4 separate regions of the Homo sapiens genome follow, and regions 2, 3 and 4 are each linked to region 1. Evidence: fine-mapped expression QTL. A gene starts in region 1. Each other region holds a variant in brackets. All regions are shown on one strand. Distances are from middle to middle.

Region 1 (7,919 bases):
CACCTGCCTCAGCCTCCCAAAGTGCTGGGATTACAGGTGTGAGCCACCGCGCCCGGCCCTTTGCTTGTTCTTAACCTCATTATCCTCTAACTTCTGAGAGTCACACTAAGAAGTCGAAGACTGTGGTCCAAATCTCTACAGCTCTGCCTCTCCCAAGCTGTGTGACCTGGGAGGATATTTTTAACCTCTCTGGGCTGTGGGTTCCTCATCTGCAAAACCACAACAATAATCATCCTATTTTATAGGAAAGTTAAATGAGATCATATAATTTGAAGTGTTAGAACCAACCCTGCCCCACAACAAGAAGTCTACCATTGCTAGACATTTCATTATAAATGCCTCATGGAGTTGTAGGGAGTAGAAGGTGAAGAACATGCTTTGCGTGATAAACAATGTCCATGTTATACATGCACTATTATTGTTCTTATTATTAATTGTTATTTATTACCGTTATTAGTTCCTTAGATTATTTGAGGTCAGAAAACAGAAGAGACAAAGGGGGCTCCTGCCAAAGGACCCATTTTGGCAGCATTCCAAAAGGCCTTGAATTTCTGAGACTCTCTAGGGATGATATTGAAGTGACTGTCCACAGGACTCAATGGTCCAAATGATTCCAGATTGTTGCTCTGTTCCCATCCTCAGTCAGGGTCCCACCATGGACACTGGGAATATAAATTGGGGTGGGGGGTGTGGTCCTGATCCCTCAAAGAGATCACAAACCTGCATCAGGAAACAATAAAAAGCAAAACAAGGCCGGGTACTGTGGCACCTGTAATCCCAGTACTTTGGGAGGCCGAGGAGGGCAGATCACCTGAGGTCAGATGTTCGAGACCAGCTTGACCAATCTGGAGAAACTCCGTCTCTACTAAAAATACAAAATTAGCCAGGCATGGTGGTCCATGCCTGTAATCCCAGCAACTTGGGAGGCCTCCCAGCATTTTGGGAGGCCAAGGCGGGCGGATCACCTGAGGCTGGGAGTTCAAGACCAGCCTGACCAATCTGGAGAAACTCCGTCTCTACTAAAAATACAAAATTAGCTGGGTGTGGTGATGCATGCCTGTAATCCTAGCTACTTGGGAGGCTGAGGCAGGAGAATCGCTTGAACCTGGGAGGCGGAAGTTGCAGTGAGCTGAAATCCAGCCATTTTACTCCAGCCTGGGCAACAAGAGTGAAACTCTGTCTCAAAAAAAAAAAAAAAAAAGCAAAACAAGAGAAAAAGAAGAATCTTATGTCTGCAGCCAACTATGAAAGGAAATGCAAAATAAAAAGGCCACACATCCAGAAGGGCCACCTGATATAAAACAAATAGCAAAGGGGCAGCCATCAGCAGGCCTGCCACTGCCTCTCCAGACGACCTGGACCGGCAACTATCCAAAGTCTTCCACTTCCCCCAGATATTCTGCCAATACTCTGCCCAAATGCAGGGCCACTCACACAAACAGGAGGAAAGAACAGGGTGTCTTATAGTCCAGGAGATCTCTTGACAAAGCTGCCAGAGAAACGTGTCCATCTTGGGCAGGCAGAAGGCCCAGGCATGGCAAACACAGGCTCCAGAATCCAGCCAGAGTGCCTGCCTACCGCTCAGGAGGCGGAAAAAAAAAACAACTAAAGAACAGGGAATTGATTTGATGTGGGCAGTGAGAATTCACCAGGTTTTCAGACCAGCAATCATATAAACTAGTGGGGATCAGATATGTCAGAACAGAGGGGAGAACTCCTCCTTTCCAGTGCAGAAAAGCTCCAGCCACAGAAACACAGCATGGAGGTGGCGAGGGGCGGGGGAAGGTGTTTAAGACAGAGGAAAAGGAAAGTTAATCAGAAAAAAAACAAAACAAAACAAAAACGGACTTCTATTTTTCAAGAGAAGCCGTTTATGCAAAAATTCTGCACTCAAGATAGATGAGGCAACAAGAATAAGCCACTCTTAACCAGGCAAAACAGCAACACAACCACTTAACAAATCCCTCTGGGAATTCAATGGGTACAGCATATACCCCACAGTCATACCCGTAAGTGGAATTCCAGTTGGGCCCTTGTGCCGAAGCTTTAGACCACGAGGCACGTCCTCACCTCCAAGATGTAACTCATCTCAAATAATGGAGACCAGGCCACGAGGTTTCTCCCAGACACGGATTCTGTATTTGTCCTTCTGCAGCTTCCGGGAAGGTTTTTCTCCTAATAAATCCTGTAGAAAGTTCCACTCAGGGTTCTGAGGATTGATACAACCCCCTTCTTGACTGATCAGAGCTTTAGAAAGATTCGCTATGACCACAGGACTGTGTCAAGTTGAACAAGTCTCAACTTGTCGCTGCCAGTATGCAAAATAGGTCTGAAACATCTTATAACAGACAACACAGCAGACACAGTCCCTGCATCCTCAGGGCCCCCGCCCACCCACCACACACAAACACATTTCTCTAGAGTTTTTTTTTCCTAGCAAGGAACTAGCCCCAGTAGCCAGGATTCACAGTGGTGGAGTGGGCGAGAGACAGGCTAACAGCCTCTCTCTGGAAAACCTAATACCAGAAAGGAAACACCAAAACCTCATCCTCTTGTCCCTAAATCCTTGCACGTGATTTCTTCTCCTCTCTAATGTTCTAGAAGGGCCTAAAGTCAGGAGCTTAGATGAACAGAAGAATCTTCCATGCCTGCAAACCACCAGGAAAAGGCATGAGGCATCCACACACAGACGCATGCAGCTTCATGGCTGTGCTTCCTGAAAGTCTACACCCAGAACCACAAACACTGGCATAAATAAGAGCACGTTAGCAAGAGAAGGCAAACCTAATTAAATCAACAGCCCAGCCAAGAAGAATGACCATGATGAGGGTTTAGGAGCACCCAACAAACCCTCACATGCGATGCAAAAACTGAGAAAGTCTCAAAACACGGAGTTACTGAGTTTTTGGAAATCACCTTCGCCCAGCCCTGAGGGGGTGTGAGAGGAAGCGGGGAGTGATGGTCAAAGGATGGAGGGAGGATCACACATTCACAGACCTCTAGTTTCGCCAGAGGGGCCTCCAAACCACATCATGGCTCCAAATCTGTTCTGACTGCAGAGGGGTCTATTTTTAGAAATTAGTTAATATGCCTTTGATCAAGTTCATAAATCCAGAATTGCCTCTATGCACCGGCCATTCGGTGTCATCCCCCTCCCCTCACCCTCCCCAAACGCCCAAACTCGCCACCAGTCTTGAGGCTGGTGATGAGGACAGTGCACGCCTAGCACACACATATTGGATTCCGAAAGCCCCTTTCCTCCGTCCGACTACTCACAGCGCATCCCTACTCAGGGCCAAGTCTCGAGAGTTTCCAGAAACGCAGGGGACAAAATTGGAACTTACTGGAGGGCAGATCTGGCCGTGTCTCCACAGGTCACAGGGACCGCCAACATCCTTTCCGCAAGGAAATCCACTGGAAGGTGCCGGGGGTCCCGGGGCACATCTTTGCTCGCAGCTCGTCGTCGCCCCTCCTCGTCCCGGCCGCCCCGAGCCCGCCCGGCCCGCGGGCCCATGTGCTCGGCCGCCACACGCGCTCTGCCCGGAGGAGCGCGGGGCTGGCGGGTTGCCCGTGACGTCACGGCGGCTCGCGCTCGGGCCTCGGGGGAGGGGGGAGGCGCGCGCGGCCCGGCCCGCCGCGTGCGTCCTCGGTCCCGGCGCTCCCGGCCTTCCCCAGGTCCCCGCCCGCCGCCCGGTGCGCCCCTCAGCCTGCTTCCCGGCAGCGCAGGGCACTGAGCCGGAGAGGGCCGCGCGCGGAGGCGGGGCGGGCTTGGGCGACTGCGGCCGCCAAGGGCCCAGACTGGGGGAGCGGAGGGTAGGCTCTGCCCTGGGCTGGGGGTCCTCGCTACAAGCGCGCCGGAGTCCCACCGGGCCGGAGGGAATCCCCGGTGATGCCAGCTCGCTTGTGCGCCGAGCTTTCCACGGTCTTTCCCTGAGCCCTCTTACCCTTCCCCACACCGTCCTGGAAGCAAGCGGTCTTCCCACTTTCCTGCTGAGGAAGGCGAGTTCAGTGAAATAGGAGGGCCAGAGATGCTCCGGGATAGGTGCAGTTCCCGCAGAAGACCGCCGACTGAGCTCCAGCTCCAGTGATCTGAGCGCCTCTTTGGGTACCACCCAGCATCCGCCGGCCTGGTGAGAAGGGCGCGCGCACCTTCTCGCCTCCTTCGACGTCTCCCGCTGTTTCCAGAAGCCGAGTTGCAAACCCGTGCAGAGGGCCAGCGGTCTGCGCAGCTCCCTCCACTCCGGGCAGAGTTGACCTACAGAGTGTGTTCAACGAGTCCCTTAAATGCCCAGTAGTTCCTCCAAAGGAGCAAGTGGACACTGGCCTCCCATGTGGGATGTGGTTATCTTGTTCTATCTGCATAAACCCGAGACTGGACAGATGTAAGAGCTGCCCCTGTTCAGTTCAAAGTTTATTTTATTTATTTATTTATTTATTTATTTATTTATTTATTTAGAGATGAAGTTTCACTCTGTCACCCAGGCTGGAGTGCAGTGGCCCGATCATGGCTCACTGCAACCTCCGCCTGCCTGGTTCAAGCGATTCTCCTGCCTCAGCCTCCGGAGTAGCTGGGATCACAGGCGCGCGCCACCACGCCCAGCTAATTTTTGTAATTTTAGCAGAGACAAGGTTTCACCATGTTGGCCAGGCTGGTCTCGAACTCCGAACCTGAGATGATCCACTCGCTTCGGCCTCCCAAATTGCTGGGATTACAGGCGTGAGCCACCACGCCAGCGCCCGTCCAGTTCAACGTCTACTGAGCACTTAAGGGGAGTCAGGCACCCAGCTAGGCAATGGGGTGGGGGTTACTCATGGACCCTAGAAGGACGTCACAAACCAGCAAAAATTGGACACACAAATGGGTGGTATCAATATTACGGAACAGAAGGTTGCCCCTCTTCTCCCCTGCCGGCTACCCTACATCCTACTCACTCCAACCTACCCGGAGGCTCCTCCCTCTTTCTGTGTAGTGTTTCATCACATCTCTTCCCGTGGCGGCTTCTCAACGCAAATGTTCTTATTTGAAAAAGAAAAAACAATTACTCAGTTGATGCTCCTGTTCTGCCTGTTTCACAGATTCATTTACACTCATGGGCATCTCTTTTGTGCCTGGCTCCTTGCCAGGAGCTGGACAAGTCTCCGCTTTGTGCCTGGCTCTCTGTGAGGGGCTGGACAGGTGTCTGTTTTGTGCCTGGCTCTCTGTGAGGGGCTAGACAGGTGTCTGTTTTGTGCCCGGCTCTGAGAGGGACTGGGCAGGTGCCTGAGCTGCAGTTGGCATCTAGTTGTCATCCATCTTTTAAAATATAAAAAGAAGATGATGAGAAACCTCTGCATCTATACATCATGCGATAGGAGCTGTGAGACCTTAATCCTTTCACTGCTTAATCATTTTTTCCAGAAACCAAAGGCTGTGACCTTGAGGAAGCCAGTGTCCTCCTGGGGGATGCTGGTGGGCTATGAGAGGACCAGCTTCTAATGGCAGACGTCTCTGTCCATGTCCTGACAGTTGATGCCCAGTCCCTTCTGCATGGAAAATCTCCCCTGGCTGAAAAGACACTTTCACCCAGGACTCACTCAACTTTGACCTTGATGCTGTTTGCCCTCTCTGGGTCTCCAGCTCTCATGCACTAATCTTAGATTCACATTTTCCTTTTTATTAATTTCTTTTTTAGAATTAAAACATTTTTTCAGTAAAAATACAAAGAAAAAATAATATTTTAATATTCCTACCATCCAAAATAAACATTTTGGTATATCTGCTTTTGTTTTGTTTTGTTTGTTTGTTTGTTTGTTTGTTTGTTTGTTTTTAAATGGAGTCTTGCTGTGTTACCGGGCTTGAATGCAGCAGCTCAATCTCGGCTCACTGCAACCTCCACCTCCTGGGTTTAAGCGATTCCCCTGCCTCAGCCTCCCATGTAGCTGGGACTACAGGCGTGCGCCACCATGCCCTGCTAATTTTTTGTATTTTAATAGAGACGGGGTTTCACCATGTTGGCCAGGATGGTCTCGATCTCCTAACCTCGTGATCCACCCGCTTCAGCTTCCCAAAGTGCTGGGATTACAGGCGTGAGCCACCGTGCCCAGGCCTGCTTTCATTTTTTAAAAGTCACTTTTCTTCTTGCAAAAGTGATATTATATATATATATACACACACACACATACATACACGTTGTAAAACATTAAAACTCTGCAGAAAAAAAAATAGAGAAGAAAAACAAATTTTATCAGCCAGAAATAATTTTTCTGAATATCAGATGAGGCCTTTTTGGGCACAGATGGATACATATAGGCATAGATCTTGATATAGATATATAGATGGATGCAGGATTGACAAATAGATAGGAAAAATATTTTACAATGTTAATGTCTCATAGTTGCAATTTTTAAGAAATCTAATTTTTTTAGTAGAAGAAAAGGAAGCTAACATAAAACTAAAGGAATTGTTGTGTTTTAAATATTTATTTACCACATGAGAAGCATTGCTTTCTAAATAAGGCTACAAAGGTTCAGAAAAGATAATGAAAAGCAAGGAAAGAGTGGCATGATGATGTTTTACTTGTAGGCCTCATCATTGTAAAGTCCAGGCAACTTTTTGCTATTACATTCACACATTTTCTCACATCTCCCTTTACCTCACCTGTATTTGTTCGTTGTTTTCTGTTTTTGTTTTTGTTTTTGTTTTTGTTTTGAGACAGGATCTCACTCTGTCATCCAGACTGAAGAGCAGTGGTGCAAACTCGACTCACTGCAGCCTCCACCTCTCAGGCTCAAGCAGTCCTCCCACCTCAGCCTCCTGAGTAGGTATGTGCCACCATGCCTGGCTTACTCCCGGGCTCAAGTGATTCACCCGCCTCGGCCTCCCAAAGTGTTGAGATTACAGGCATGAGCCACTGCGCTAGCCTAGTTGTGCTATTGTCTTTCGATTACCACTTCCATTCTGTAAATGCAGTTCTCATGGTTGTTTAGTATTGGTTCTATAATTAAATAATTTTAGGCTCAGTACCAGTCTTTACCTTCTCTATATCTGCATCCTCTTTTTTTTTTTTTTTTTTTTGAGATGGAGTCTAGCTCTGTCACCCAGGCACGATCTGGGCTCACTGCAATCTCCGCCTCCTGGCTTCAAGCGATTCTCTTGCCTCAGCCTCCTGAGTGGGGATTACAGGCACCTGCCACCACACCCAGCTACTTTTTGTATTTTCAGTAGACAGGGGTTTCACTATGTTGACCAGGCTGGTCTTGAACTCCTGACCTCAAGTAATCTGCCCATCTCAGCCTCCCAAAGTGCTGGGATTACAGGCATGAACCACCATGCCTGGCCCTATATCTGCATCCTTATCTACAAAACCCATTCATTCCTTTATCAAACATTATCAAATTCCTCTTATGTGCCAGGCACTGTGCTAGTCCTCAGGACTATGAGTGCAATAAGACAGCCCAAGTCCCTGCTTTTGTGAGGTTGACATTCTAGTCAGAAGAAGCAGACAAGCCAATAAGCAAGGTAATTTCAACAATGGTCAATGCTATTGAGACAGTAAATCTCGGCAGAGAGCTAAAGAGAAAATGGGGCAAGAAGATAATTGATACTAGATAATTTGACCAACAAGAAGAAGCCAGCCGTCCAGGTGTGGTGGCTCATGCCTATAATCCCAGCACTTTGGAAGCCCAAGGCAGGCAGATCACTTGAGGCCAGGAGTTCGAGACCAGCCTGGCCAACGTAGCCAAACCCCATCTCTACAAAAAATACAAAAATTAGCCGAGTGTGGTGGCAACGCACCTTGTAGTCCCAGCTACTTGGGAGGCAGAGGTTGGAGAATCACTTGAGCCTGGAAGGTGGAGGTTGCAGTAAGCTGAGATCATACCACTCCACTCCACCGGGTGACAGGTAGAGGCTCGATCTCAAAGGAAAAAAAAAAAAAAAA
Region 2 (7,919 bases), 190 kb before region 1:
ACTGAAGGGTCAGGTGGCTGCCCCCAGACCCTCTGGCTATCCTCCCACCTGACACAGTTCTCAAGGATATCTACCTGCTGTGTGGTTGACTGAGGTCCCTGCACCTGATGTGGCCGAGCAAGCCATGGGCTTTCTAAGGACACTGACAACACTTCCCTGATGTCTCCTGGGACCGCAGAAGGTCATGCTGGGCCCAACGCTGTGCTTTGACGTCTGAAGAGCCTGAGTGCCAAGGACAGGCTGACTCAGGACCTCCAAGGCTCCCAGGAGGTTCGGGGCAGAGGTGTGCTCTGTGTTAACATCTGTTCTCCTCTCTGCCAGCAGAATATCAAGCATGCCACAGTTTCACATCATCCATTCCTCTCTACAGGCCGAGAGGCAGGGCCGTATTGTCTTCCTTCTCCAATCAGAAGGTGAATTGCACAAGGGCTAGGTAACCTGAACAAGGGGAGGCAGTCCTACATGTAAGGCAGGTCTCTGTTGGAAAGATGGAGAGACCCAGGGTATAACACACATTGACTAATCACCATCTCTGCTACCAGTTCTTGGATGCCACCAGAACGTGGCCCAGGCAGTGGGGCCAACTGGGTGGGCAGATGGCAGCCAGGAGCAGCCACCAAGGGCTAGGGTAGGAGCCCTTGGCCACTTGGCAGGAGACAGTGAACAAGCTTCGAAATCAGCAACAGCACTTGGGTTCATGATGTGGAAATCATCAAAACACCATCGCCCACTGCAAATAGATCATGGAGGTAGACTATGGTACCTGCAAGAGCTGTAGATGGCAGAGAGTGGAGCAGTTTCCCCTGGGAAGCTCCTGAGTGCAAGCTCCAGCTTTGGGATATGTTCCTTCCCTCTGGAGAAGGCCCCAGAAAAGGACACAGAAACAGACACTGCTTCTCACAGGGAGTCAGCAGAGCCTGGCCCCCACGCTTGCTAGATTCTATCAAATCCAGCAAGCCGAGCATGGGGTGCAGGGCAGGGTGGGAAGTGCATAGTCTGCCCAGCTCTGAGCTGATCCCCACCAGTTAGTTGCTGTGTCAACATGGGAAGTCAGCCTAGCTTCTCTGGTCTTCATCTGTAAATCGAGGATTAAAAAAAAAAAAAAAGCAGCTACTCAGCCGGGCACAGTGGCTCACACCTGTAATCCCAGCTCTTTGGGAGGCTTAGGCAGGAAGATCGTTTGAGGCCAGAAGATTGAAACCAGCCTGGAAGGCTGGGCGCGGTGGCTCACGCCTGTAATCCCAACACTTTGGGAGGCCGAGAGGGGAGGATCATGAGGTCAGGAGTTCAAAACCAGCCTGGCCAAGATGGTGAAACCCTGTCTCTGCTAAAACTACAAAAATTAGCCAGGGGCAGTGGCAGGCACCTGTAATCCCAGCTACTCGGGGAGTTGAGGCAGGAGAATCACTTGAAGCTAGGCAGCAGAGGTTACAGTGAGCCGAGATCACGCCACTACACTCCAGCCTCGGCGACAGAGTGAGAATCTGTCAAAAAAAAAAAGAAGGAAAGGAAGGAAGGAAGGAAGGAAGGAAGGAAGGAAGGAAGGAAAGAGAAAGAAAGAAAGGAAGGAAGGAGGGAGGAAGGAAGGAAGGAAGGGGAAAGAAAGAAAGAAAGAGAAAGAGAAAGAAAGAAAGAAAGAAAGAAAGAAAGAAAGAAAGAAAGAAAGAAAGAAAGAAAGAAAGAAAGAAAGAAAGAAAGAAAGAAAAGAAAAGAAAGAAACCAGCCTGGCCAACATGGCGAGACCCCTGTCTCCACTAAAAATACAAAAATTAGCTGGGCATGGTGGCGTATGCCTGTAATCCCAACTGCTTGGGTGGCTGAGGCAGGAGAATTGTTTGAACCTGGGAGGCAGAGGTTGCAGTGAGCTGAGATTGTACCACAGCACTCCAGCCTGGGCGACAGAGCAAAACTCTGTCTCAAAACAACAACAACATAAAACAGCTGCTCCTGGACTGGGGTGGGATGGATGGGAGTATTGTACTGCAGTGTCTGCAGAGTGCTCAACACAACCTCTGGCTCAGAGTGGGTGCTTGATAAACACTTTGTTATTCTCAGGGTCTAATTGTTGTCCTTATTCCTGTTGCCTGGTAGGCAAATTAGGTTTCAGGACAGATAGTCTGGATTTGAATCCTAGCTCTGCCACTTGCTGGGAATGTGACTATTGACAAACCACTCTACTTCCCGATGGCTCCGTTTTCTTATCTACAGAGACGCGGACGTGATCAGCAGCCATAGGGGACCATTGAGGATTACAGAATTAAAGCAAGTGGTGCAGTATGAGCTTTCAAAAATAACAGTCTCAACCCAAACTGAGGAGTGTTTCTATAAAACAACTTACCTGGACTCTTCAAAAATGTCAGAGTCGTCCGGGTGCGGTGACTCTCGCCTGTAATCCCAGCACGTTGAAAGGCCAAAGTGAGTGGATCACTTGAGGTCAGGAGTTCGAGACCAACCTGGCCAACATGGTGAAACCCCGTCTCTACTAAAAATACAAAACTTAGCCAGGCTTTGTGGCACACGCCTGTAATACCAGCTACTCGGGAGGCTGAGGCAGGAGGATCACTTGAACCCGGGAGGTGGGGGTTGCAGTGACCTGGGATCATGCCACTGTACTTCAGCCTGGACCACAGAGTGAGACTCTATATCAAAAAAAAAAAAAAAAAAAATCAAAGTCAAGTATGACTGGGGAACATGAGACACAGCCACTAAATGCAATAATGATCCATAATTGGGAAAAAATAGTCAAAAGGGACATTATTGGGACTACTGATCAAATTGTGTGTGGCCTGAGGATTGGATAATACAATTGCAGCAATGCTAAATTTCCTGAGTTTGATAATTATACAGTCGTTATGTAAAAGAATGTCGTTATCCTTGGGGAGCACACACTGAATATTTAGGGATGAAAGGGCATGTCTACAACTTACTCAAATGGATCAGGAAAAAATAGCGTATTTGGTGGTGGGGTGGAGTGTGAGTTAACAACTGATGATCTGGGTGTGCAGTAGTTCTTCATATGTTCATAATTTTTTTCTGCAAGTTTTAAATTATATTAAAATAAATAAGGACCACAAGCTACAGAACAAGAGGGCGAGAATCACCCTGAAGAGCCTGGAGTATTAACCATCCATGCAAGCAAGAAATCAAAGCCTTTCTCAAAAAAACCTATGTCACCTTAATCACAGATGTTAGGATTTATTACGTAGAAAACTACAAAGGGTAAGGCTGAAATTTCATTTGAACCACCACCTCCGTCCAAGAAGAAGAAAGAAAAATGGATGGCTACTACTGTTCCTACAGCCCATGGCCAGGCTGGCAGGGCCATCAGGAAATAATTAGGCCACATCCGAGCCATCCAGCAGCCTGGCACATAGGTGAGCTGGGATTTGACCCCAGGCTGCCTCAACAGGAGGCCAGAGGGAGGCAGGTACTCCAAGTCAAGCAGCAGCCAGCCCCAAGATCAGCCCTTCCTCTGAAGCCGAGGCCCCACGCACTGTAAGGCCGAGCCCTTAATACGGCTGCAAACTTCAGGGGAGCCCAGACCCGTGTCTCCCTGCCCTGTGTACTCCCATCACACTGCCCCCACCACTGTGCACAACAGGTGCTCAACACTCGTCTGTAGATGTACTCATGGACACACATCTTCTTTTCAATAATGCACAGACTCTTTCAGGAAGAAGGAGCAAGAAACCTGCAACAACTGTGTCCCAGGGAGGAGAAACAGGGGTCTGGGGACATGAGGGTTGGCAGTCTTCATTGGAAAACTTTGTATACCTTTTGGATTTTGTGTCTTGTAAATGCTTTACTGATTCAAAAAGTTTTGTTTTGTTTTTCTTAATTCTTTTAATTGATTCATTTATTTTATTAATTAATTAATTAATTAATTAATTA[T/ATTAT]TTTTGTAGAGGCAGAGTCTCACTGTGTTGCCCAGGCTGGTCTGGAACTCTTGAGCTCAAGCCATCCTCCCTCCCCTGCCTCCCAAAGTGCTGAGATCACAGGCATGAGCCACTGAACCCAGCCATTTTGTTTTTTTAATATAAAAGGAAAAAAAGAAATTGACAAAGTTACCTGTGAGGCTGCCATGAGTGCGAAGTCATGAGTAATCCCATGCTACTTAATGCTGAGTCCCCGGCACACAGCTGTTGCTCACTATGCTACACATCCTCTTGTTTTCAGAGGGTGAAGAGACTAGAATGATTAAAGACTCAGAGTCAGCAGCATCACTGATTTTACTGGAGAGTGTTTAGATTTGATCACCAAAAGTCCAGTCCTTATGTTTCTGAAACTCTAGAGCTGCTGTTAAAACAAGGTAGGAAAGCCAGCCTCAAGTAATCCTAACATCGTTATCCAACTCCAATAGGTGCCAGGAACTGTGAAGATGTTTTCATCCCTACAACAACCCAAGAAGGTGGGTAGGTGCTCACATTATCCCCATCTTACATTTCAAGAAACCACGTCACAGAATGGTCACAAAAGGCGCCCAAGACCTCTGCAGAGGGAGAAGCCTGGTAGGTGAAGGAAGGAAGTCTAGCGCCAGAGACTGGGCTTCTAAAGTCTATAGTCTTGAAGGGAATGTGAGGACCACCACTGTCCCAGGAAAAAAGGATTTTGACTCAGAGAACCCTGGGTTCCAAGCCAAGCTCCCTCCAAAAGCCGCAGGTGTGGTCAGACAGCCTTTGGTGGCACCACCTCCTGGGAGGACTGAAGAAGATAATATGTGAGGAAATGCTTTGGAAACTGTAAAGTGCCATGCAAATCTCACCGTAGAAACAGAGGATGCAGTGGGGGTGTGGGAAGAAAGGAGGCATCTGGAAGTTCAACCTTACCAGGACGTTTTCCCTGAGCCATTAGAAGTATTTCCACTCCTAGTCTTCTACCTCAAACTTTCCTTTTTGTACTACACTTACATTCAACTTTCCCTCAAAAACATCCTCCCACTTCAGAGGTGTTAAGTTATTAAGTCAGCCCTAAATGTAAATAGTTTTCATTTCTCTAACCCCAAAAACCTCCCTTCCCGCCAGCATGCTTTGGTCTTGTCACCCAGAACATCAAAGCCATTGTTTTCCGTAAAAGCGTTCTGATCACTTGGGTGACTTGTGCAGATAAACACCACCCACCACATGCCAGGCTGTGCAGCACCTTCCTGGTGCCCTGTCAGGAGGTGAACGCGCCAGGAAAAAATGCCGAACTCTACTGGCAAATGCTTTGCACATGGTCACATGCCCTGCACCTCTCTCCAAGCTCTTTGGGTAGCCTTGGCCAGTCCCTTCCCCACAAGGGCCCTCTTGCAGAGGAAAGAGGTTGGACCAAGCAATCTCTAGTTCTCCTTGAGATCTAAAATTCACTGATTCCATCTCATCCTCCCTGCTAGGAACTTCCTGAAATATAATAGTTCATTTACAAACACACACACACACAGAAGCTAAGTAACTGGGTATAAGCTGGGCTCTAAGCCTGGGCGCGGTAGCTCACGTCTATAATCCCAGCACTTTGAGAGGACAAGGCAGTGGATCTCTTGAGGTCTGAAGTTCAAGACCAGCCTGGCCAACATGGTGAAACCCCATCTCTACTAAAAATACAAAAATTAGCTGGGTGTTGTGGTGGATGCCCGTAATCCCACCTACTCAAGAGGCTGAGGCAAGGAATCACTTGAACCCAGGGGGTGAAAATTGCAGTGAACCAAGATTGCACCACTGCACTATATCCTGGGCAACAGAGCGAGACTCTGTCTCAAACAAAAAAAAAAAAAAAAAAAAGAAGCTGTAGTTTTTGGTGACTCACAGAGGAGAAAATATATTTTTCCACTTAGCTCAAAAGAATGGTTCCTCCATTCTTCAATTACTCAACTGATGTAATGATGTAAAGTCACCAAGCCAATGGGGCACCTGGGGAAGTTCCAGGCTCCTGGGAGTTCAAACGTCAATGAAGGTAAGTGAAGCAGGGAATTTCCTATGGTGGACAGGTGCGCCCAGAGGTGGGCTGCAACAGAGAGCCCCCTCCCTGAGAAAACATCCCATATCCATTCAAGTCTCCAGCTCAATAAGCCACCTTCTAGGGAACCCAGGAAACACTGAGCCCAACGCTGGCCCAGAGCCCATCGTCCAGGAAGTCACGCCCCCAGTATGCAGGTTGCCTCTTCCAGGAAGTCAGTGTTGAGCCACCGCTCAGCCCAAACCCCCTAGACTATAACCTCCGTAAGGGTAGTAATCGTGACTGACATGTCATAGGAACATAATAGATATACATATTTGCTAAATGAATTACTCACAGTGCTTCCGTAAAGCTTAGGTAATTCCATTCCCCCCAATACTGTGTGCTTTTATGTACTAGATACTGGGGATAAAATGGTAAGCAAAGCAGATATTTGGCCAGGCACAGTGGTTCACACCTATAATCCCAGCGCTTCAGGAGGTCGAGGCAGGAAGATCGCTTAATGCCAGGAGCTCAAGACCAGCCTGGGGAGCACAGTGAGACCCCATCTCTACAAAAATATTTTAAAAATTAGCCGGATGCTGTGGTATGGACCTGTAGGTCTAACTACTTGGGAGGCTGAGGTGGAAGGATCGCCTGAGCCCAGGAGATCAAGGCTGTAGTGGGCTATGATCATGCCAATACACTCCAACCTGGGTGACAGAGCAAGACCCTTTCACTGAAAACAAACCACCACCACAACAAAAAAACAAAGCAGATGTTTCTCCATCCAGGCTTCTTCTAAAGCAGTTACTAAAGTGCTGGCAGATGACCATCAGCTATCAGCCCTCTCTGGGAACTGCCTTGGCCGAATACAATCACCTTGTTCAAGATTAGGCATCCTTTGGGTGGTGGGGTCGGGGGCACATGAAATGACTGATCAACCCTCACCTCAATTCAGGACAATTCTGAAGGATCAGTCTAGCTCCCAGGCTCCTCTGGCATTGGCCTTTGTTGGGACATTGTTACAGCTCCACTTCTCCCTCTGCCCAACTATGGTTTCTTCTCCTTCAGTTTCACAGCTGTTGATCCCAAAGGAATCCCATAATAAACATCCTACTTGCTAATCTACATCTTAGCGTCTGTTTCCTAGAGAACACAGCCTGCATCGCAAAGGTTTATATGACAGATGCTCAGGCCTTGTGTCACCAAGATGAAGGTTCCAGGACCAGAAGGGCAAACATATCATAGCAAATGGGAGCTACTTTGTGGGAACACCTTGCTGACAAGGATGGAAAGCCTGGACTCAAGGCTGGCATCAACAAGCAAGGGTAGTGAGCAGTGTGCAAACACTTGTGATCGTTTGAATGCGTGGATGAATCCCAGCTCATTGAGTTAGAGACCCATTTTCTTCAACTTTGTTCACCTAGCACCTAATATAAAAAAGGAGTTTGGTAAAACTTCTGTTGGGTGATTAGATGATGACCAGATGGACAAATAGATAGATGAACTTACACATTTGGTTGAGTTTATTGTTAGACAATAAATGAAAGATGATTATTTGGTACAGGTTAAATTGTGTCATTTGTGTAAAGTATTAATCACAATGTCCAAATAACAATAATGCTAAAAATGGCAACCGCCAAGGCGGAAGGGTCACTTGAGGCCAGGAGTTTGAGATCAGCCTGGGCAACATAGTGAGACCTACAAACACAGACACACACGTAAATACATTAGCAAGGCAGCTTAAGTCTAGGAGTTCAAGAATACACTGAGTTATGTTTCTGCCACTGCATTCCAGCCTAGGCAACAAAGCAAAACCTTGTCTCCAAAAAAAATTATAATAATAATGGTCCGGGTGCGGTGATTCACACCTGTAATCCCAGCACTTTGGGAGGCTAAGGAGGGCAAATCACCTGTTTTCACGAGTTCTAGACCAGCCTGGACAATATGGTGAAACCTCATCTCTACTAAAACCACAAAAAAATTAGCCAGGTGTGGTGGCACGTGCCTG
Region 3 (7,919 bases), 210 kb before region 1:
GGGGTCAAAAGGTAAGGCAGTGCTCAAAAAACAACAGTAAAATGGCAAAAATACATAGAACCCAACTTGAAGGGCATCCCAATGTAAAATCTAGAAAAATCTGAGCACAAAATGTATTATAGTCATGGGTTATAACCAATATAATGAGAATCCAAGAGTCCAGACTGATTTTTAAAAAATTGCATTTTTTCAATATAAAAGAAAATATCTTCCTTATAGTAACATTTTAATTGACAAATGTAGGAGTAATGATGGAAGTAGAAAATCACTGTTTGGCACACACTGTAGTAATAACTGTTTCAGACAAGAATTATCCACGAATGCTAAAATTAGTTTGGTGAAAGTGTGATGAGAAACAAGATACTTACATAGGTCCAAAGCATCTCCTGACAAGATACTTATTCATTACACAGAAAAAAAAATAGAAACTTTACAGTAGAGAAATCTGGCAGACATCACCTTAATCAAGTGATGGAAGTAAACATCATTAGTAATGTGACAAGCCAACACCAGGTGCCTCCTGATCTGAGGCACTGAGAAGGACACAGCATCTCATTCTTTATAGTGGCAACTGAGCATTGTACTGTTGACCAGCTAGGCTGTCTTCAAGGTTCTGATACATTACTAATGCTGTTGAATAAATATCTTTTGAAACTTCCCTCACTATTTCTAGGGTACAGACTCCGAGAAGTGGGATTGCTGGGCCAAAGGGTGCATATACTCTAAACTTGGAGAAGTCCTGCCCAAATTTCCCTTATCTTTTTATTATTATTATTATTATTATTATTATTATTATTATTATTATTATTTGAGACAAGGTCTCACTCTGTCACTGAGGCTGGAGTGCAGTGGCGCAATCTCAGCTCACTGCAACCTCTGCCTCCCAGGTTCAAGTGATTCTCCTTATTCAGCCCCCTGAGTAGCTGGGACTACAGGCGCGCACTACCACATCTGGCTAATTTTTGTATTTTTGGTAGAGATGGGGTTTCACCTTGTTGGCTGCTTGGCCTCGAACTCCTGACCTCAAGTAATCTGCCTGCCTTGGCCTCCCAAAGTGCTGGCATTGCGGGTGTGAGCCACCACACCTGGCCTTGAAACGTCTTTTAGAGCTGTTGGTCCTGTTCATCACCCTCCACCTTTCAGCAGCAGTGTGTGAGAGTACCCACTTTCTTTGCTAGCACTCAGCACTACAAGCCACCAGAATGCTGAAAGCTGGGGCAAAGGAAGCCATATGTGGCTGTGTCAGCAGCTGGGCAGATGCAGGGAGTACAGCAGGAGCCAGACAAACCGAGAGTACTGGATGCATCCGGATGCAGAGGGATGTTCTGAGGTTTAACTAAGTCAGGGCTCCAGGACACACTGCAGTCAGCAGAAGGTACATGTACAAAAGATAGCAGGGGAAAGACGACAAGACTAGGGCATATCTGTTGGATGCTATTTGAGAGGTTTGCTATTTAGAAATGACCTAAGAGCTTAAACTTGCACCAAGCCCCACCTGGCCCAGTCTCCATCCTTCAGTCACAGCTCCTTAAAAGTCTAAGACAGGGGTGTCCAATCTTTTGGCTTCCCTGGGCCACATTGGAAGAAGAAGAATTGTCTTGGGCCACACATAAAATACACTAACACTAACGATAGCTGATGAGCTTCAAAAACAAATAACAAAAAAATCTCACAAGCTTGGTCTAAGACAATACAAATGTAGTAGTGAGGTTTCCCAGTCAAACTTATTAGTGATAGTTGCCAACCTTTGTGTTGTAACTTTTTTTTTTTTTGAGATGGAGTTTTGTTCTTGTTGCCCAGGCTGGAGTGCAATGGTGTGATCTCCGCTCACTGCAACCTCCACCTCCCAGGTTCAAGCGATTCTCCTGCCTCAGCCTCCCGAGTAGCTGGGATTACAGTCATGTGCCACCATGCCTGGCTAATTTTGTATTTTTAGTAGAGACGGGGTTTCTCCATGTTAGTCAGGTTGGTCTTGAACTCCCAACCTCAAGTGATCTGCCCTCCTCCACCTCCCAAAGTGCTGGGATTACAGGCGTGAGCCACTGTGCCCAGCCTGTGTTGTATTTTATAATCAATTTCATGTCACTTTATGTGGACTTCGCAACAACATAGAGAAAGGCATTGTTACATTTACAGGTAACAAAGACTGGAAAATCAGAGAGGGAAAGTAACTTGTTCAGGGCTGCACAGCTGCAAAGTGAGGCAGGTAATTGGTATTCGAAAGGCTACTTCAGTGGTATCTGGAGACTAGTCTATCTCCTGGCCCAGGCTTCTCCCTGTAGCAGGACCACTGTTGTCCTAACGCCACAAATACATTATCTCATTTCATCTCTACAGCCATCTGATGAGATGGGTACTACTGTTAGCTCCATTTTACAAATAGGAAAACGGAGATTGTGCCCCGGGCTTTGCTACCAGTAATGGGTGGGCTCAGGACTCTCTCGGCAGAGAGGGAAGTGAGGGGACAAGGCAGACCCAGCTCAACCCCACCTCCAGGATGAGCAAATGTAGAGAAAGGTGAAGAAGTGCTGGCACCTGAATAAAGCCCTCCCTTCTCCCCCACCCAATAAACCCAGTAAATCCATAGTTCTTGATTACCTACTGTATACAAACTGGCTGGATTACAAGGACCTGCTTTACAGACTAATGTTCATTATAATTCACAAGAGTCAAGGGGATCTTATTGTACAATGAAATACAGTAGTTGCGGCCTGCTGTGGACTGAAAGGTGCCAGCATCCATTCTGCATTCATATGTTGAAGTCCCAACCCCTAAGGTGACTTTATTGGAGATAGAAACCTTATGGAGGTTGGTAAGGTTAAACGAGGTCCTAAGGGTGAAGTCCTAATCTGAAAGGATATGTGTCCTTATAAGAAGAAACACCAGAGAACCCTCTCTGCTCCTACAACCATGTAAGGACACAGAAGAAGGCAACCATCTGCAAGCCAAGAGGAGAGCCCCCACCAGAAACTGAATCAGTTCACACCTTGACCTTGGACTTCCCAGCCTCTAGCACAGTAAGAAAATAAACTAAGCCCTTTATTCTATGATATTTTGTTATAGCAGCCCAAATAGACAAAGACAGAGACGCTTCATAAATCAGACTGGTGGCCTGATTAATTTGTCTTTTGACTATGCCCTCATCAGTCATGTTGGAGAATAGTCCCCCAAATCTATATAAGAACTCACTTATAATTTACACATATGCATATGAATGCCTATATTATTATTATAATAACAGGGATGAAAACAAAGACATTTTATAAAAAAGAAATCAACAGGCCAGGCGCAATGGCGCACACCCGTAATCCCAGTACTTTGGGAGGCAGAGGCAAGCAGATATCTTCAAGACCAGCCTGGGCAACATGATGAAATCCTGTCTCTACAAAAAATACAAAAACTAGTCAGGCATGGGAACACATACCTGTAGTCCCAGGTACTTGGGAGGCTGAGGAGAGAGGATCATTTCAGCCTGGGATGTCTAGGCTACAGTGGGCCATGATCCTTCCACTGTACTCCAGCCTGGACAACAAAGAGAAGAAGAAAAAGGAGAAGGAGAAGGAGGAGAAGGGAGGGCAGGGGAGCAGAGGAGACAGAAGGGGAGGGGAGGGTAAGAGAGGAGAGGAGAAGAGAGGAAGGAAGGAGGGAAAGAAGGAAGGAAGGAAAGAAGGAAGGAAGGAAGAAAGGGAGGGAGGGAGGGAGGCAGGATTGTCTAACACAGTGAAATCCTGTCTCTACTAAAAAAAAAAAA[G/AG]GTGTGGTGGTAGGTGCCTGTAGTCCCAGCTACTCGGGAGGCTTAGGCAGGAGAATTACTTGAACCTGCCTGGGAGATGGAGGTTGCAGCAAGCCGAGATTGCACCACTGCACTCCAGCCTGGGCAAAGAGCAGGACTCCGTCAAAAAAAGAAAGAAAAAAGAAGGGAGGAAGGAAGGAAGGAAGGAAGGAAGAGGGAGGGAGGGAGGGAGGCAGAGAGGGAGGGAGACAGGGAGGGAGGAAGGAAAAAGAAAGAAGAGAAAAAAAGAAAAGAAAAGGAAAAAAAAGAAGAGAAAGGAAGTTGTAACATTTTCTCCTTATACTCTGTTGTGGGTTTAACTGTGTCCCCAGAAGTGTTATGTTGAAGTCCTAACTCCCAGAACCTGTGAATGTGCCTTATTTGGAAATTGGGTCTTTGCAGATGTAATCAAGTTATGATGAGGTCATGCTGGTTTAGAGAAGATGCAATTCTAAGAAAAGGGAAATTTGGACACAAACACACAGGAGAGGACACAGGAGGATGGAGGCAGAGACTTGGATGATGCAATGACAAGCCAAAGAGCGCCAAGGATGGCCAGCCTCCAGCAGAGGCCGGGAGAGAGAAAGGGAGGATTTTTCTGGGCATCTGCAGGGAGAACACAGCCCTCACAACTCTTTGATTTCAGACTTCTGGCTTCCACAACTATGAGAGAATACATTTCTGTTGTTTTGGGCAACCTAGTTTGTGGTACTTTGTTATAGCAGCTCTAGGAAACTAATACACACCCTGACCAATCTGCACATCCTACTGAATAAGAAAGAGTAACATGTAAAGCAATGGGAGGAAAATGTCACACAGGTGCAGAGGCCAGATTGGAGAGTAGTGGCTCATCACAATGATCATGCCCATGGATCCCTGGGAACCGAGGTGGGCCCCTGGCCATGGGGAATCACCCAGGGCGGATGTGAGACTCAGGCGCCTGTTGGGGATTATCCAGGTCTTTCACTCATTTATGCATTCAGCAATCAGCAAGGATTCCTGAGGAATACTGTCAATTAATCACTCAAGTTTCACCCTCAGAAACATAACGTTCTGGCATCAGAGGGACAGAAAGATTGTTGACGTGCCTGGTCAGGAAGGTGAATTCGGTCGAGCAGGATTGTGCTGGGGAGCTGCTACAGTCTGAATGTCGGTGTCTCCCCAAAGTTCATAGTTGAAATCCTAACCCTCAAGGTGATGGGATTTGGAGGTAGGGGCTTTGGGAGGCGATCCAGTCACGAGTGTTGAGTCCTCATGAATGGGATTAGTGCCTTGACAAAAGAGGCTCCAGAAAGCTTTCTCGCCCCTTCCTCCATGTGAGGACGCGGTAAGAAGACACTGAACCAAGAAGCAGGTTCTCACCAGACACCAAATCTCCCAGCGCATTGATCTTGGACTTTTAGCTTTGAGAACTATGAGAAATAAATTTTTGTTGTTTGTAAACCACCCAGTTTATGGGATTTTGTTACAGCAGCCCACATGGATGAACATGGGAGCAAAGGGGAAATCATGGAAGGAGGACTGTTTTCGTTCCATAGGCAAACCTTTCCCACTCTGTGAGTGGCTCAAGGTCAACAAGGGAAAACAGATTCCTGATCTGGTGGGGGCCAATGGCGAGTCTGAAAGGGTCACAGGAAGTGTGTCAGCCTCTGCCTTCTGGGACCCTTGGGCAGCTGGGCACCGGTACAGAGGAAACCCCCCAAGAAGCACTCAGCCCACATTTCCCCCCAGCTAGCCTCACTTCCCCCCTCAGCACTGCCCTGGTTTATTTTGACAAGGTTGTTTCCACCCTGCATGGTCACACACCCTTGCAGACACTAGGGAGTCCTGCCCACTCTGGGAACCATTGTTCACTGTGGAAAACCCGAAGCGTCACCTTTATGCACAGCAGGCTGGGAAACAGTGCTGCTGGCGAGCCCCTCAGGAGCAGTCATGGTTGTGGGCAAGCAGCCAAACGGGGTGCAGACAGCACGCAGGGCTTCCTGGCACAGACCTGCAGGTGGGCGGTAGGCGGTGGGGTGGGGGGCAGTGGCAATGCCCTGGGCCTCCAAGTGATGAGCTTGGAAACCTGCTTCAAGTTGAACTGAGCAAAGGATGCAAAGGTAGGAAATACAGAAATACACCTCACAAGAGAAGAGGAAACATACCAAATGTTTTAACGGGTAGAATTTCAGATAAAAAACAAATCCTGTATTGAACATGGAAAAGGCACAAGGGGGACAATGAGGTCTGGGAGAAGCAGCAGCTGCATGAAGCAAGTACACCCCTTTGGTGATGGGATCTGCTGGTGGAATGATCAGAACTGAGAAGCCTGGAGGACCTTGCAGAGCTCCAGGCTGGGCTGTCATCTCTGATAGTAGCACAACGCAGCTGGTTCCAAGTATGGAATAAACAACAACAACAAAAGCCCTACACACTAAAATCAACTATTGTTATGGGACAAAGTCCTGCTGCCAGGAAAGTATTGCTACGGTGACACTGTCAGGCACAGGAGGCAAATGGGAAGGGGCAAGGCCCTCCGCCCTTCCCACCTGCCAGTTTTCCTTTGAACAACCAGGTCTGGCCATTCTGGGCCTGCAGACTTTCAGGGCCATAATCAGCAGCCACAGACTGGCCATTTCCCCCTTTATACTGGGCCTACACAAGGACCATAGTCAAAACATTTCTCAACAACTGATTTGCTATGCAACCATGGAGGTGCCTGACCATTCAGAGCAGGTGCTGGCCTGATCTCCTGGTTCCTTGCTACCTCTGGTGCTTCCAGTTCTGCACCAAGCCCTCCTGACTGCCCAGGAGGCCCACATCACTTATTTTTGTTGCCTGCCTGGCCTCTGCAGACAATTGAGTTTGGGACGCCTGGCTGAGAAGGAAGCCAGGTGGGGGATACTACATGATACGTCAACTGTTTCATCCTCATTCTGTGTGCCTCGGGTCCCAGGAAAGCAGGGACATCCCTGATGGGGCTAACCAAGGGGTTCTAGGAGCAGTGTGCAGGGGAAGAGGTTGTATGGAGTGGGAGTGGCATGGGAGGGAAAGGAAAGCAGGAAAGGCTGTCAGTAGGAGGACAGGAGCAGAACAGGACAGTCCAGAAACCAGCAAGGGCACATGAAGCCCAGGGAGAGACACATTCAAAGGCCTGTGAGCATAACACAGAGTCCCGGTTTGCAAACATCTAGGCAGGACACATTTCGGAGTCTCTTTCTACATGCATCTGACTCATCTTGATTTTTGTTGAATGAGGCCACATTGACCATAGGGAAAAGTCCAATGTTCTCAGCCCACTCCTCTTGCCCCACGTGAACTTTCCAACATCTCTGTTCATTACCTTCTTTTGTCAGTCAATGTGGGCAAAAAGAAAACAAGTTTGTTAAAAGTGGATGGGGGCCGGGCGTGGTGACTCACGCCTGTAACCCCAGCACTTCGGGAGGCTGAAGTGGGTGGATCACCTGAGGTCAGGAGGTCGAGACCAGCCTGGCCAACATGGTGAAACCCCGTTTCTACTAAAAATACAAAAATTAGCCAGGTGTGGTGGTGTGCACCTGTAATCCCAGCTACTCGGGAGGCTGACGCAGGAGGATCGCTTGAACCTGGGAGAGCGAGGTTGCAGTGAGACGAGATCACACCACTGCACTCCAGCTTGGGCGAAAGTGTGAGAATCCATTTCAAAAAAAAAAAAAATGGGTGAAATGTGGTAATGAATTAGAGTTGGAGACAGCAGTATAAACTCATAGTTAGCTTAACATAGATAAGATGGATACCTGGAGAAATATTTACACATACGTGCATGCACATGGATTCATATACACACATTTATTTATTTATGTATTTATTTATTTTTAAAAATTTTTACAGGGAAAAGTGTAAATGCAGTCCCCCATTACCACAAATTATGCAGTCAAGTCTCCCACATTTGGGGGAATCACAGGGGTCAGCACATCGGGAGTGCAATGGATAAGCCTCACCCTGGGGAAACCACCTTTGTGATCATGGTATCTCCCCTGCCAGGTAAGTATTCATATGTGTTAAAAAAATTGTTCTCCCCATCCTCCCTACACACATATATTTCACTGCTCTGTCAGTTGAGAAGATCTGGAGGAAACAACACCTCAAGCACATCTAGCACCCAGATCTTGGATTCTAAGTCCTTTCT
Region 4 (7,919 bases), 300 kb before region 1:
CACAATTCAGCACACTGCAGGAAGCAACACAGGCAGGGTGAGCGTCTAACAAAGCCCTGAGCTCGGCAGCAGATGGAGGCTTCAGGAAGGAAGGAAGCCAGTGTGTCTGGAGCCCAGTGAGGAAAGGGGAAAGTGGGTGGCAGTCAGATCATACGGACCCAGGAGATGGTAAAGAGCAACAGGGGAATTCACCAGTTTTTAACTCTGAGATAGACACACTTTTTCCAGCTCATGCTGTTTGCCTCAAAGAGGTCAGCATCCCAGCACAGAGTTGTGGCCACCCAGCCTCTTCATAGTCTGATGCACCACACCTGTGACTGGCCTGCCACTCCGGAGCACCAGAGGTGAGGCAAAAATAGCTTATGGTGTTGACAGCTCTCTGCTCTGGGAAACCAGAGGCTAAAGGTGTCCCCTTTTACTGTACAGTTGCTGCCTGAGTGCATCCTGATGGGCAGCAGGGGAAACCAGAAAGGGCCCTTCTCTGAAAAAAAAAAAAAAAAAAAAAAAAAAGGAAAACTTGGACATATATATGTATATCAAAAGGTTTGTGCTTGAAGTAAAGATTTGTTTTCTGTGCAGACTGTCTTTGGTATAAGGAAGTCCAATTATTTGTTTTACAAATACTTATGGAGTGCCTACCATGTCACAGATACTTTTCTTGGAAAGAGATAAGACAAAAATCACTGCCTTCTTGAAGTTTATATTCCAGGGGAGTAAGAGAAACTAATAAATCAACTCAAACAATTAATTGTAGAACCCATTAGGAGACACCAAGAACAATGGAGGAAAATAAAACCAGCAAAGAGCATAGTGAGCTTCGTGGGATGTGGGGAAGTTTCAGTGTTAAATCTGGTGGCCAGGGAAGGCCTCATGGAAATGATGATACCCGAGCAAAGACTGAGAAGGGATGAGGAAGTGGACAAATAGGCTAGAGAGGACACAGCAGGTGCAGAGAACCTGAGGCAGAAGTATGCCTGGAGGGTCTGAGTTATGACAAAGGGGCCAGGATGCCAGGGCGAAATGAGATGGAAAGGACGAGGACGTGATCAGAGACATCACAGGGCTGCATCCCACGGGCCTCGCAGGCCACAGTGAGGCCTGTGGCTTTTACTCAGAATTAGGTGGAACCCTTTGAGGGTTTTGAAGCAAATGGGCTTATGAGCTCTGGCTGCCCTTTCAAAGGATCACCCTGGCTGCTGTTTTGAAGACAGACTGAGAGGCAAAGGCACAAGCTGGGAGCCCAGCCCAGGGGCTGTTACAAAAATTCCAGGCAGGAATGAGGGTGGCTTCGACCAAGAAGTGAGAGGAGGTCATAGTCTGGATACATTTGACAGATGGACTGGATAGATAGCATAACTGCCCAAGAGATTCTTCCTGCCCACTGCATCCATGCACCATGGTCAGCAGTGTCCCGCCGGTAGAGATGGTGCCAGAGTCAGCCCCCATCTCTCTGCCAGGAGAACTAGGCAGCCGTTTGAGCTGGCCTCCAGGCCTGTTGCCAGTGGGGGGCTACCGAATCATACACAGGTAGCCACCAGCACAATCCCACATGAGACCCCAAATTTGTTACTGCCCAAGGGGTTATTCCTGCCCACTGCATAAAGAAAGACCACGGCATTGTAGTAGAAAAAGAATTTAATAGACACGAGGCCGGCCACGCCACGTGGGCGATGAAGTTCGTACTCATCTTATTCAAAGCTCATAGGTTAGGGATTTTTCAAAGGCAGTTTGGGGGAAGGGGTGGGGGTGGACAGGTAACAGGTGCTTGCTGCTGAGTGGTTGGGGCAGAGATGAAATCGTAATGGGTTGAAGCTGTCCTCCTGTTGGGCTGAATTGCTTCTGGGTGGAGCCATAAGGTCCAGGTGGAGTCATGGGTGTCAGACATGCAAAAAACCTGGAAAGATATTTCAAAAGGCCAATCTGTAATAGTAGTGTTATTCACAGGAGCAATTGGGAAAGTTGCATATCTTATAACCTTCGGAATAATGTCTGCAGCTTAGTAGGATTCAGGCTCTTCTCCTCCCCGCACCCTGATGGCCCCCTAACAGCTTTACAAAAGTGGCTGAGTTTTGGGCAAGGCCTATTATCATTTAAACTGTAGCCTAAATGTCTTCCAAAGTTAGCTTGACCCAATAGCCCAGGAATAATTAAGAGAAAGGCAAGATGGAGGTTGGGTTGGCTTAGCTTACTGTTATAATTTTCTCATTGACACACCTTTTGCAAAGGTGGTTTCAACAGGATGGATGAGAGAGGGGATGACCAACTGAAGTTCCTCATCTAAACCATAGCCTTCCCCATCTCAAGGCCTTTGTCAGAACATCTTTCCCATCCTCCCTGCAGCAGGTTCCTTTAGGTCTGGGCTTGACTGTCACCTCCCCAGAGAGGGCTTTGCTGGACCGCAGCTCAAGTGTGCTCCCCCTGTAATTCTCATTCCCGTCCATGTGGATGTTGTACTTAAACACAAGTTAGTGGCCTGCTTAGGTTTTGGTCTATTGCCTTGATTTGAGTCTGTGCCCCACACTGGATGCATCGATCTCCAGGAGAGCAGAGACCTGGTTTCTCTTGTGCAGTGCTACATCCAAGAACCAAGCTCAGGGCCACTCAGAGGAGGTGCCCACATGATATTTAAATGAGTGCATATTTACATAAAGATATAAAATATCTAACAAGGCATTTGTTTCGGGAAGGAGGGAAGGAAGGGAGGGAGGAAAGAAGGAAGGAAGGAAGGAAGGAAGGGAGGGAGGGATGGAGGGAGGAAGGTTGGGAGGGAGGGAGGGAAGGAGAATTTATGGAATTTGCAGACTCAGCATTTAAACCCAGGTTTGCTTACCCAAATCTCACTCACTTTCTACTTCCCTCCTCCACCCCATACAGCCATCAATCAATGAACAAACCCACCCTGCGGCTGGCTGGGGAACCTGAGGGCTTAAGACACTTATAACGTAACTGAAGATGCTAAACTAAGATGCACATAACACAACAGTGACCATGATAAAAAAAAAAATTCATTAGCAAAGTTTGTTGTAGAAGACTATTGAATTATAAGGCAAGATGTTTATGATACAGTTTTAAAAGAACGTTCTAGAAAACAGCATGTAAAATATAATCTCCTTCCTAAAAATATATATATGTACATAGAAACTGTACTGGAAGATTTTACATCAAAATGTGAGCTGGGTATATTTGACTGGGGTGATTACTGGTATTAATTTGGCTATTTTGTTTATTTAAATTTTCTATCATGATTTGGTATCACTCTCGGAGCAATATAAAAGTAATTAAAATTATATTTCTGCATACATATAAGTCTATAATAAGCTGCAAGGTCAGTAGTGATTCCCATAGAAGGGGCAGGCCAGTGGTCAGGCAAGGCTTCCAGAAGGAGGGAAGGCGTGGACCGAGGTGGAGCACGCAGGCGAGAGGACATTTCCTGCTGCCGTTTTCCCACAGTGATGCTGGGTGGTGGCCCCAGGCTCCTCTGGGGTGTTCTGCCTCTTCAGGCCTCTGAGGGAGAAATGCAACTTGTCGGCTGGGCCCCTGAGAGGACCCTCCCGCCTGGCTTTGACCTAGAGGTCTCTTGGCCTCCACTGCCTTCATTCCAAAGCACTCCTGAAAGCATCCTTCCTCGGAAGACCCAGGAGAAGCTCACAATTCCATATCGGCTAGGGATGTGTGATCACGTGACCCGCATGTCGCCATATGCAATGACGTGGAGAACAGGAGTCAGAGTGAGAAGGCCTGGGTGGGAGGCCCACTCTCCACTGCTTAGCTAGGCGACCCCTGGTGAGTCACTTCATCTCGGAGTATTAATTGTCTGTAAAATGGGGTAATGAACCTGTAGTAATGAACATGTAGTAAGGGCAAAGGAAGATAACTTTCGTGAAATTAATGGGAAAAGTCCAGAAAAGCTGCTTTCTAGACAGTAACTCACTCACAAATGTTAGCAAGCAATGATCCCATGGAAATTCAGTGCAGGACTCACTCTTGCTGGTAACAGAGAAGGAGGGCACAAAAGTCCCTGTCCACAGGGGCCAGGATCCCTGGGGGTCCCGAGGCCTGGGCAGAAGGCACTAGGGTGCACTAACAGGAATTTAGGTGCTGCCAGCTTGCTCAGCATGGAGGAAACCTCTGCAGAGGAGGGGTGGACTGATGAAGAGGAGCAGCAGAAGACAATTTCACACCGAGTGCTTACAAAGTGCCAGGAA[C/G]CATATTATCTCTAATATAAGACACGCTGCCAGGTAGTTATCATCTTCATCATTTTAAAAACAAGTAAAGTGAGGCACAGAATGTTATGTAACCTGTGCAAGGTCACACAACCAGAACATGGCCTCTCTACCTCCACTCTACATGTACTAATCTCCATCCCCAGGGCCGAGAGGCCGCAACCGGATGGTGAGGTTTAGTCTTAGCCCTGATGGTGGGGTGGGGAGGGGACAAGGGTGACTTGAAAAGCTCTCCGTTCCCCTTGGCAGCTGTCTTTCCATTCGCACCCCCTCCTGCACCCCTCTGCCAGGCCTGTTGATCACAGAGGCACCATCCCATCTGCTCCGCCTAGAAGTTCAGAATCTCCCGAGATTTCTGAAGCCTCCAGCACTGTTCTTTGTGACACTCTAAACACAGCAGCTTCTCCTCCTGGGGATGAGAGAGGGTCAGCCAGAGCCCTGGGCCTCTGTTCCCAACCCCTGAGCCCAGCCCTGTTCCCAAGGCTGCACACTACAATTCCAGCCCCAAGGACATGGTGGGGCGGGGGGAAGGCAGAGAGTAGAGGGGACACAGGAACTGCCCCTAGGAAGGGAGGCCCCGAGGTCCAGAGAGGGGAAGAACTTCAGGCCTGGCTCATGGAGATGTGTCCAGCCTCAGAGGGAGCAGGATCAAGCAGAGTTCCAGGTGCCGGGTAGGGCAGAAAAGGAGGGTGGTCCCAGAGCCTCGTCTAAGTCCCTGCAGGAAATCTCTGAGTAGGAGCTGGCTGGGGGCAGGCTGGGGTGCAAAATGCCTGTCCACTGGCTGTGGGGCAGGAGAGGGCAGAAATTAAGAGGGGAGTTCTTGTCTGAAGCTCATCCCTACGCTGAAGGCCCAGAGTGCAGCTAGGAAGTATGGACTCTGAAGCTGGACTGCCTGGGTTTGAACCCTGGCTCTGTTACTTAATAGATTCTCAGGTAAACGAGTTAAACCTCTCCATGCCTTAGTTTCTCCATGTTTACAAGGAATGATAATCACACCTGCCTCAGTGTTGATAAGAGAAAGGAAATGAGTCTGTGTGGTTGAAATTTTCACAGGGAGCCTGGGGTGTGGTCAGTACTGCCTAATCCTGCGACTGGCACACTTTTTCTGTAAAGGGCCAGAGGGTCAATATTTTAGGCTTTGCTAGCCAGATGGTCTCTGCTGAATATTCTTTTTGTATTCTTCAACCCTTTAGTGACATAAAAATTATTCTTAACTCAGAGTTCTTACAAGCACAGAACACTCACCAGATTTAGCCCAAAGGCTTAGTTTTTGTTTGTTTGTTTGTTTTGAGAAGTAGTCTCACTCTGTCGCCCAGGCTGGAGGTTCAGTGGCGCTATCTCAGCTCCCTGCAACCTCCACCTCCTAGGTTCAAGTGATTCTCCTGCCTCAGCCTTCCAAGCAGGTGGGATTACAGATGTGCGCTACCATGCCTGGATAATTTTTGTATTTTTAGTAGAGATGGGGTTTCGCCATGTTGGCCAGGCTGGTCTCGAACTTCTGACCTCAAGTGATCCACCCGCCTTGGCCTCCCAAAGTTCTGGGATTACAGGTGTGAGCCACTGTACCCAGCAAAGGCTACAGTTTAAGGACCCCTGATCTAGACTAAAGGTAACCCTAGAGTTGTAGGTGTGGTTAGGGGCAGGCATTTGGCTGGTTTCAGTTGGAAGCAGTTTCTAGGCCAGCCTGGGGAGGCAGAGGAAACATGGCAAGACTGGGGGCCTGGGTGGGGTGGAGCACAGCCTGCTGTGAGCTCTCATGCTGAGCCCTGGGCCCATCTGCTGCCATCATTCCCATCGCAGTTTAAGAAGCACCTGAGGCTGGAGCCTCTGAGGACAATGACAATGGACTGTGTGCCATTCAGAAGGGATGACCCACCATACATCCTCTAATAAACATTTACAAGTTGTTTACTATATGCTAAGCACTGGCCTAAGCCATGAACAAGGCAAAGGGGCCTGGGCTCGACCCCTGGAGGTCTCAGCTGGCAGGTCGCACCTTTGACAGCCCCAAGCTGGGTCTTCATCCTGAGTCTCAAGATGCAGTAGCCTCAGTGAACTCCTCAGCCTCCAAGCGTTCCTGGGGTGATCCTCTTGGTGGGGCTTGTGAATCTGGGAGCCCGTTATTCTGTCCTTCTGGAGAGAAAGAGAAAAAAAAAAAGATCCGCTGACTATAAAATGGTAGCAGGACAGTGGCCCACTCGCATTGCTCAGCTGGTACAGGGGACAGGGCCCCCTTCAAATGAGGACGTCAGAGCATTTGACACATGTTCACTCATTCCAGAAAGCTCTCCTTCACCATTCTAGATACCAAGGCCTCGAGAGGCTCCTAACTGTGGGCCCTGCCCATCAAAGAGAGTGACAACATATAGTGAACATTGCCATTTTACAGATTGAAAAACTGAGTTTGAATAAAGCTAACTAAGGTGTCTAAGATCATGCCATTCACCATGATGGAAAAGTAAATCAGAATCTTATGTATCCTGTGCCCCACAAACACAGTGGACTCCTTCCTGAACCCCATCAGCATTCTATTCTATAATATTACAAAGCACAGTTGTACCTGGTTGGTTATCTTTTTTTATTTTGACTCATGTCCTCTGTGCTCTGAGCCTACTTGTTGCAGGACCCATGGTTAATCCCTAATGAATATACCAGCAATTGACAGGTGGGTTGAGTTTCTTTTTACAAAGAAATGAAAGTAACACCATCTTACATATGAGATCTGGAGGGCACAGAGAAGCCAGCTCTGACCATGCCGAAAGAGCATGGCAGAATTGGAGTGGAAAAGAAAAGTCTCCATAAGTATCTTAGAAAGGGCATCGAGAATGCGTACCTCAAGCTGGTTCCTTGTTTTCAACTTGCGGCTGACCGCAACGCTAACAAACAAGGGAAAATGAAATCCGTGATCATCCTCAGACAGGGTTACCCTGACATTCAGAGCAGAAACCACAAAGTTTTGCTGTAAAGAGCCAGACAATATATATTTTAGGCTCGGCAGGGCACAGGTCTGTCTCACGATTCCACTCCCCCACTATAGCAGGAAAGCAGTCACAGACAATATGTAAAGAAATGGGCATAGCTGTGTTCCAATAAAACTTTATTTACAAAAACAGGCTGTGGGCCATAGTGTGCCAATTCCTGGTTGAGTACAGACAATGGCAATGTGACCACTTAATGAGATTCTATCGTGTGCCAGGAACTCTACATCTTTTAATCACCTTTCTAAGGCAGGTATTTGCCGAGTGCTCACCCGCAGCCAGGCACTGTTCTAGAAGCTGGGCTTCAGTGCAGAAAAAGACAAAACCCTGCTCCCTCAAGCTTACGTGGTGGAGAACCCTGCCAACACCCCACCCTCACCCCAAGAAAAAGCATCACCCCCACTTTTCAGAAAAAGCAAAAGGTACGAATCCTAGAACTTGTGAGGGGCACAGCTGGGATTCCAGCCCAGATTCCAAATCTCGGTTCTTTTCAGGATGCCATACCATCTCTCAAAGCAGAATCAGGACCCTCAATTTCAGCCCAGAGGCTGCATCTTATCTTAAGCCAAGCCAAACTGCAGCTGCAATCTCCTATGCAACAGCAGCCCAAGTTTTAAAACGCCCAAAGCAAGAAAAGATGCAGTGGACGCTGTCCAGCCTCTGATAAACCTAATAGAAGTTGCTCTCCGGGGCTGGTCATGCAGGGCTGGCCCCATCC

Alleles and levels. Positions count from the first base shown, and alleles are read on the strand shown. Sizes are in standard deviations (SD) of each study's normalised expression. Not every link is listed here.
In carriers of allele ATTAT in region 2, the expression in Th1 cells of the gene that starts at base 3,555 in region 1 tends to be higher than with T alone (large effect, 0.77 SD a copy in Schmiedel 2018).
In carriers of allele G in region 3, the expression in skin of the gene that starts at base 3,555 in region 1 tends to be lower than with AG alone (small effect, 0.38 SD a copy in TwinsUK).

What was found. PIP is the estimated chance that this variant, and not a neighbour inherited with it, causes the effect. A credible set is the group of variants that fine-mapping cannot tell apart.
Region 2: its variant is the best candidate, but not a certain one, in a credible set for the expression of PVT1 in Th1 cells (Schmiedel 2018, PIP 0.55).
Region 3: its variant is the best candidate, but not a certain one, in a credible set for the expression of PVT1 in skin (TwinsUK, PIP 0.79).
Region 4: its variant is the best candidate, but not a certain one, in a credible set for the expression of PVT1 in whole blood (TOPMed, PIP 0.88).

The regions. Positions count from the first base shown.
Region 1 is chr8:127,790,160-127,798,078 of GRCh38, reverse strand. PVT1 (Pvt1 oncogene) reads right to left here and starts at 3,555. Exons shown (of 9, transcript NR_190187.1): 1 at 3,345-3,555. MIR1204 (microRNA 1204) reads right to left here and starts at 2,117; the gene lies at 2,051-2,117. RefSeq lists enhancers at 2,080-2,419, 2,520-2,569, 2,291-2,862, 2,863-3,432, 4,575-5,145 and silencers at 3,550-3,709, 3,720-3,779, 3,800-3,849.
Region 2 is chr8:127,978,624-127,986,542 of GRCh38, reverse strand. The region is part of intron 3 of PVT1 (Pvt1 oncogene); the gene reads right to left. Among named protein-coding and RNA genes, the nearest start is that of MIR1205, 22 kb to the right of the region's middle. RefSeq lists an enhancer at 6,008-6,057. The variant T/ATTAT (reference allele first, on the strand shown) is at 3,892.
Region 3 is chr8:127,998,994-128,006,912 of GRCh38, reverse strand. All of the region lies in intron 4 of PVT1 (Pvt1 oncogene), which reads right to left. It also overlaps the pseudogene RNVU1-32. Among named protein-coding and RNA genes, the nearest start is that of MIR1206, 5.9 kb to the left of the region's middle. RefSeq lists enhancers at 5,017-5,598, 5,677-5,816. The variant G/AG (reference allele first, on the strand shown) is at 3,752.
Region 4 is chr8:128,094,955-128,102,873 of GRCh38, reverse strand. It overlaps PVT1 (Pvt1 oncogene), which reads right to left. Exons shown (of 9, transcript NR_190187.1): 8 at 6,220-6,356; 9 at 1,618-1,894. Among named protein-coding and RNA genes, the nearest start is that of MIR1207, 50 kb to the right of the region's middle. RefSeq lists an enhancer at 6,808-7,057. The variant C/G (reference allele first, on the strand shown) is at 4,206.